2 linked regions of the Homo sapiens genome follow. The protein of the gene in region 1 purifies or fractionates together with the protein of each later gene. This does not show direct contact. Each region holds a gene or a part of one and is shown on either strand. Other genes may lie near its edges.

The links.
Region 2: the proteins of XRRA1 (region 1) and KIAA0232 purify together in Homo sapiens (affinity purification with mass spectrometry; one large-scale study listed by BioGRID and IntAct). This does not show direct contact.

Annotation. Positions count from the first base shown.
Region 1 is NC_000011.10:74,903,938-74,907,759, reverse strand, and holds part of XRRA1 (X-ray radiation resistance-associated protein 1), read left to right. Parts: intron 1-486; coding exon 487-615; intron 616-1,303; coding exon 1,304-1,521; intron 1,522-3,822. UniProt on the Homo sapiens protein: May be involved in the response of cells to X-ray radiation.
Region 2 is NC_000004.12:6,788,905-6,792,726, reverse strand, and holds part of KIAA0232 (uncharacterized protein KIAA0232), read right to left. Parts: intron 1-3,822.

The sequences.
Region 1 (3,822 bases):
CCCTCAACCCACCCTACTTTACCCTACTAGGTGGCAAAGCTGTGGTCTATAACAAGGGCATTGTCTCCTGGTGCTCCCAGTTACCAGTCTACTAGGTGACACAGCATAACAAGGAGTCTTCCTGAGTCAAAATTGTGCAGTGATCTGCAGAATGCTCCCTCCAGCTTGGTCATGCCTCTTTCACCTGGCATTTTCTATAAGCACTACCTATACAATCCCCCATCCTGCCCTAACCTGGTTTCAATGATGTGTGTAACCTTTCTCCATACAGAAGACAATATGGTATGTATAATAGTGTTTGGGAAAGGAGAAGGTGGGGAAGGAATTATACTTTCTGTGCATCCCTATGGGGACCTCTTTTGGGCACTAGAACCGTTCCTAAGCTGGTTAGTCCTCCTAATTGATTCCCTGTCCTCCATGGCTTCCTGGGAATGGTGGAATTTGTCCCTCGACCTTGCTCATTACCCAAGATCTTTGCACTCACAGGGAGGCATCTGTAACATCGCTGACAAGCAAGAGGTACATCCTGAGGTTCCCAGCGCTGGAGACACTGATGCTGGATGACAACAGACTCTCCAACCCCAGTTGCTTTGCCAGCCTGGCTGGGCTCAGGAGGTAAAGCCATAAGCCTTTCTCTGCTGGGCCTCCTCTAATCCCCAGGCTTGCTCACACTCTGAGTGCTGTTCTGGAAGCCAAAAGGTTTGGGTTTAAAGCCTAGCTCCACAATTTATCTCTACTGTGTGGCCATGGGTAAGTCATTTCTCCCCTCTGAGCTTTGGCTCCTCCATAAAAATGGCCATGAGTGAGGACATTTCTGATCACATGACTGAATTAGAAGCAGCAAAGAGAAAGGAAAACAGGAGGAGATTTTACCCAAGATAGGATTCGGACCCTGACAGTAGAGACAGGAAAATTTTTTAAAATATTGAGAATCAGAAAGAGAAATTTAATTCCTGAATTCTAACTGAAGTAAAGAAAATAGTGGCATTTACATTGTTAAGCTTTACTTCTCTGGAAAATTTACTTTGGTTTCAACTACCATTTACTGAATACTACTTTGTGCCAGGCCATTTACATATTGCCTCATTAAATCTTCACAAGAACCCTGAAAGGTTAATAAATATTATCCCCATTTTAGAGACAGGGATATTGAATCCCAGAGAGAGTAAGTCACCGGCTCAACGTCACACAAGAGGAATAAGTATCCAAGCCTGATTCCATGTTTTTTCCCTAAAGTTGCTTGGTAAACAATCCTGAGGTATCATTATTGCTATGATTCTATATTCACTTTCCTTAATTGAAGACTGAAGAAGTTAAGCTTGGATGAAAACAGGATTATCAGGATCCCATACCTACAGCAAGTTCAGCTCTATGACGAGTCAGTAGACTGGAATGGAGGCAGGGGAAGTCCCCATAAAGAGCCCCAATTCATGCTGCAGTCCAAGCCAAGGATGCTTGAGGACTCAGATGAGCAACTGGATTATACTGTACTGCCCATGAAAAAGGATGTTGACCGGACAGGTGAGTGACACCCCTTGTCCCAGAAATTCTACCCTCATGGTGGAAATACACTTCTGAGAGTTTATTCTGAAAGTCTCACTTGGTCATGGTGAATATCACGAATTGAATTTGCTGATTCTTTGTCAAGGATGTTTGCATCTATGTTTGGGAGATGTGTTGGTGTATTGATTTCTTTTGTTACAGTATTCTTGTTAGGATTTATAATCAAGGTTATGCTTGCCTGATAAAATGTGTTTTGGAAGTTTTATTTCTGTTTCCTAGGAAAGTTTATATACTATTATTATTTTATCCTTAAATTTTGGAAGAATTCACCATGAGACCACCTGAGCCTGGAGTTTTCTTTGTAGAATGAGGTTGAAATTATGCAACTTTAGAAGCTTGGAAGAGGTGCTCCTGACACCTGAAATTTAGACCTCTGGGGAAGCGGTGCTGCTTGGCTGCTGGTGTCTCCGAGCTATGATGGGCTTCATGTAGCTGAGACCCAGATCTCTGAGGATACTGGCCAGCTGGTGCTGGTGCCTGTGGAGGAGTCACAGTGAAGCTAGTTTATAAAAGTTGGAAAAACTGCAAACTAGATTCAGCTACTGCTGGGGAAAGACTTGCTAGACTACAGCAAAAACAAAACAAATCAAAAACCACATTATTCCAGTGGCATTCACAGGAAGCACAAGCAGTTAGGAAACCCATGGGAAGCAGATAGGAAGAGATAAGCCCCTTTTTCCTCTTCCAGCTTTGCAGTCTCCCTTTAGCACCACCCATATTGTCAGAGTCTAACAGGAAACCAGCGGTCAAAGCAGAAATACGGTTTTGAGAGCCTCAGCTCCAGCATTCTAAAGCAGAATAAAGAAAGATGGATTTCAAAGTTAAAAATAATACTAATAACTGGCCGGGCACAGTGGCAGTTATTTTGGGAGGCCAAGGCTGGAGAATTGTTTGAGGCCAGGAGTTTCAGGCATGCAGTGAGCTATGATCATGCCACTGCCCTCTGGCCTGGATGACAGAACGAGACCCTATCTCTATAAAAAATTAAAAAATTAGCTGGGTGTGATGGCATGCACCTATAGTCCTGGCTACTGGGGGCTGAGGCAGGAGGATCCCTTGAGCCTGTAGTGAGCTATGATCACGCCACTGCTCTCCAGCCTGGCAGCAGAGTGAGACCCTGTCTCTACAAATAATAATAGTAACAACTTAATAAAGGGCACAATTATGTTATTCAGATTCTCCCTAAAATAATTTTCTGTCTGCTTGGTTTGTTAACTTTGGAAATAGGTATATTAAAGTCTGTCCCCACTGTTGTAGATTTGTCAGTATCTCCTTGCATTTCTGGCTTTTTTTTTTTTTTTTTTTACTGTGAAGTTGGTTTGGTTCTCTGTTATTAGGTTTGTGACTTTTATCTTGGTAGGTTGTGTATTTTAATCGTTGTAAAATATCCCAGGTAGATAAATAATTTTGGTTTTGACTTGGGCCTCTATTTTGTTTGATATGAATATTTATTTTAGGATATCTTAAAAACAATATAGTACTGCATATTTTTGCTTATATGATTCTTAATGAGTCTTTTTTCATAGAAGAATTTAACTCACATGGTGATTATTGATACATTTCACCTTATTTCTACCATTAGTGTGTTTTCTATTTACCTATGCTTTTTCTTTTTTTTCTTCTTGTGAGCACTAAGTTTTCTTTCAATTCCAATCTTTTCACTAATTGTTTAAAGCAAGAAATCTCATGTCTGTATCTCTAATGGTTACCCTAAAACTTTTTTTTTTTTCTTTTTAGAGACAGAGTCTCACCCTATCACCCCAGGCTGAAGTGCGGTTACACGATCGTGCTCAAACTGTATTGTTGAACTCTGGGGCTCAAGTGATCCTCCTGCCTCAGCCTCCCAAGTAGCTGGGACCACTGCACCTGGCTATTACCCTAAAACTTTTAATTCACATTTTAAAACTCACTTTTGTCTATCAACACCTAGAATCAACCAAATACATGTCTTCTTTTTTAATAAGAAAATTTTAATATGCATCTATCTATGCCACCCTACTCCCATCACTTCCCATAATGTAATAAACTCTAACAATAATTTAGATTGGTTTTAATTTTTAAAATTATATACCAATGATTCTTTAGACTGAAAGATTGAACCTCATTCTTAGGTTCTTTATCATGTGTACATATGTATAACTTAGGAGCAGAGACTTCTGTTTACAATACAACTCAGGTCCTAATACAGTATAATTTTTAATCTCTTCAAAGTTCTTCTTACCCTCTTATTTTTTTTCTTTCATCCTTAATTCCTACTCC
Region 2 (3,822 bases), on another chromosome or scaffold:
CAGAGTGAGACTCTGTCTCAAAAAAAAAAAACAAAAAAAAAAAAACCTAAGACTATCAAGACTACAACAGCAGATCACTGAAGCAAGCAAGGGCCCTGTATGATGCAATTACAGGCTCATAAAGCCAACCCTGTGCCTTTATAAACTTTATGAGCTTAATATTCTACATGCAATATAAAAAATCTGTGCTTAATTGTATGAAATTATCTCACAGGACTACTTCAGAAAACAAAACATCCGGCCTTAACAAAAGTAGTAAAACTAATATAGCCACCAAGAAAATTTTTAACATGACAAATGATTATTCAGAGTAGTTAGAAACTTGTTGGTCAATTTTTTTAAGGCTGCTGAGAGTAAGGTGGTTACTCATGAAAGTTCACTAAGACATATGTACAAAAATGTTTACTGTAGCACTGTGTTACAAATAACAAAAACCTGGAAACTCTTCATATCAACTAGTTAAATAAATTCAGGCACCTTCACACAAGGTAATACTAGGCATATTAAAAAAAGAACATGGTAAAGCAAATCTGTACCTAAAGTAGATCTGTGTATTAGTCTGTTTTTGCAATGCTGATAAAGACATACCCAAGACTGGGTAATTTAGAAAGGAAAGAGGTTTCATTGACTTACAGTTCCACGTGGCTGCAGAGGCCTCACAATCATGGCAGAAGGCAAGGAGGAGCAAAGTCACCTCTTACATGGATGGTGACAGTCAAAAGAGGAGAGATTATGCAGGGAAACTCCCCTTTTTAAAACCATCAAATCTCATGAGACGTATTCACTATCATGAGAACAGCATGAGAAAGACCTGTCCCCATGATTCAATCACCTCCCACCAGGTCCCTCCTACAACATGTGGGAATTCAAGATGAGATTTGGGTGGGGACACAGCCAACCCGTATCAATCTGTATGTCTGATATGGAAAGCATTCCAAGATACAAAGTTTAGTGTTTGTTTAAATAATGACACAAGAACACTCTTTACCATGATTCCATTTTTTAAAATTTATCTGTGGTCTTCAAGGCAAGATGAATACAGGATAGGAAGGGAGATGAAGAAAGAGACTTATTGTTCATGTTAAAAAGTCGGCTTGAGTCCAGGCATAGTGGTTTACGCCTGTAATCCCAGCATTTTGGGAGGCAGAGGCAGGAGCATCGCTTGAGTTCAGGAGTTCCAGAACAGCCTGGGTAACGTGGTAAAACCCCATCTCTACAAAAAATTTAAAAATTAGCTGGGTGTGGTGGTGCATAACTGTAGTCCCAGTTACTCAGGAAGCTGAGGTGGGAGGATCAATTGAGCCTGGGAGGTGGCCAAGGCTACAGTGAGCCATAATTGTGCCACTGCACTCTAGCCTGGGTGACAGAATGAGACCCTGTCTCAAAAAAAAAAAAAAAAAAAAAAAAAAAAGGCTTTATGACAGCTACTTGTATTCCAATGTTTTGGCAAATCATACAAAACACATACTTTAACAAGTTTAATTTAAACTTTAAAGTATATAAAAACAGGCCAGGCACGGTGGCTCATGCCTGTAATCCAACACTTTGGGAGGCCAAGGCGGGCGGACTGCCTGAGCTCAGGAGTTCGAGACCAGCCTGGGCAACATGGCAAAACCCCATCTCTACTAAAAATACAAAAGATTATCTGGGCATGGTGGCACACACCTGTAGTCCCAGGTACTCAGGAGGCCAAGGCAGGAGAATCGCTTGAACCCGGGAGGTGGAGGTTGCAGTAAGCCAAGATTGTACCACTGGACTCCAGCCTGGGTGACAGAGCAAGACTGCCTCAAAAAAAAAAAAAAAAAAAAAAAGTATATAAAAACAAGAAACTCCTTCAGATGGTACTGGCAAAAGATTAACAAAAGTAGAATCAGGACTCAATTATCTATGATGGTAACTAACCAAAGAAAGCAGTGGCAAGGAAAACAACCAAAGAAAGAATTAAAAACATGTCTACTCTATTTCAACTTTCTCTCCATTAAAATATTTAGGGAAAATGCTAGCAAGGAGCAACATACTAATCAGACATCTAATAAAGGGCTTGCCTGGCATGGTGGCTCATACCCACAGTCCCAGCACTTTGAGAGGCCAAGGCGGGAGGATCGCTTGAGGCCAGGAGTTTGATATCAGCCTGGGCAACATGGCAAAACCCTGTCTCTACATAAAAAGAATAAAAATTAGCCAGGAGTGGTAACATGAGCATGTAGTCCCAGCTGAGGCAGGAGGATCACTTGAGCCCAGGAGGTCCTGGCTGTAGTGAGCTGTGATCGTGCCACCGCACTCCAGCCTCGGTGACAGAGTGAGACTCTGCCTCAAAAAAAAAAAAAAAAAAAAGACCTTTTTTAATTAAAAAAAAAAAATTAAATAAAAAAAGGAAGGGCTTGAAAAAAATCTCCAAACTGGGTGAACAATTCTGAAATAATTACTGCTGGTTTTCCCTATCTTCTCCCTATTCAACCAGGGGCAACACTGAGGAAGAGACAGATATGGAGAAAGCCTGGCAACAGGTAAGCACTTAGGGAAGATGTCAGAAACAGAAATCTCAACAGTCATTCCAAATACCAAAGAGGAAGTTTCTACTGCTTAATGTATATTAACAAGATGTAAGATTAAAGTGAAAACATTCGCTTTCCTGAAAATAACATACTGTATAGTGTAAACTTTGACAATTTCTATTTTCCACTCTTTTTTTTTTCTTGAGACAGGGTCTCGCTCAGTCACCCAGGCTGGAGTCCAGTGGTGCAATCATGGCTCACTGCAGCCTTGATCTCCTGGGCTCAAGCGATCCTCCTGCCTCAGCCTCCTAAGTAGCTGGGACTACAGACATGTGCCACCACACCTGGCTAATTTTTAAAATTTTTTTGTAGAAACAGGGTTTCACCATGTTGCCCAGGCACATCTCAAACTCCTGGGCTCAAGTGATCCTCCCACCTCGCTTTCCCAAAGTGCTGGAATTATAGGCAAGCCAGCATGCCTGGCCAATTTTCCAGACTTTCTTAAGCCATATGCAAAAAACCTGCTCATCTACAGACAGGTTTGCCTGTCTTCAGAATAATTTAGGACCACCATCATGAATCTGTTTATGCAAAAGCCCTCTCCAACTCAGTCACAAAATTAATGAAAGAACGTAGATGCAAGTTGAAAATGAGATGACTGGCCAGGCACGGTGGCTCACACCTGTAATCCCAGCACTTTGGGAGGCCGAGGCAGGAAGATCATGAGGTCAGGAGTTCAAGACCAACCTGGCCAACATGGTGAAACCCCGTCTCTATTAAAAAATAAAAAATTAGCCGGGCATGGTGGCACGCACCTGTAATCCCAGCTACTGGGGAGTCTGAGGCAGGAGAATCACTTGAACCCACGAGACAGAGGTTGCAGTAAGCCAAGATCACGCCACTATACTCCAACCTGGGTGACAGAGTAAAACTCAGTCTCGGGAAAAAAAAAAAAAGAAAAGGCCGGGCATGGTGGCTCAGTCCTGTAATCCCAGCACTTTGGGAGGCCAAAGCGGGCAGACCACGAGGTCAGGAGATAAAAACCATCCTGGCTAACACGGTGAAACCCAGTCTCTACTAAAAATACAAAAAATTAGCCGGGCGTTGTGGTCGGGCGCCTGTAGTCCCAGCTACTCGGGAAGCTGAGGCAGGAGAATGGCGTGAACCCAGGAGGTGGAGTTGGCAGTGAGCCGAGATCGCGCCACTGCACTCGAGCCTGGGCGACAGAGCGAGATTCTGTCTCAAAATAAAAATAAAAAAAAAAGAAAGAAAATGAGATTTTTTTCTTTACACACACACCAGAAATAAATATGTGAACACTGTCATA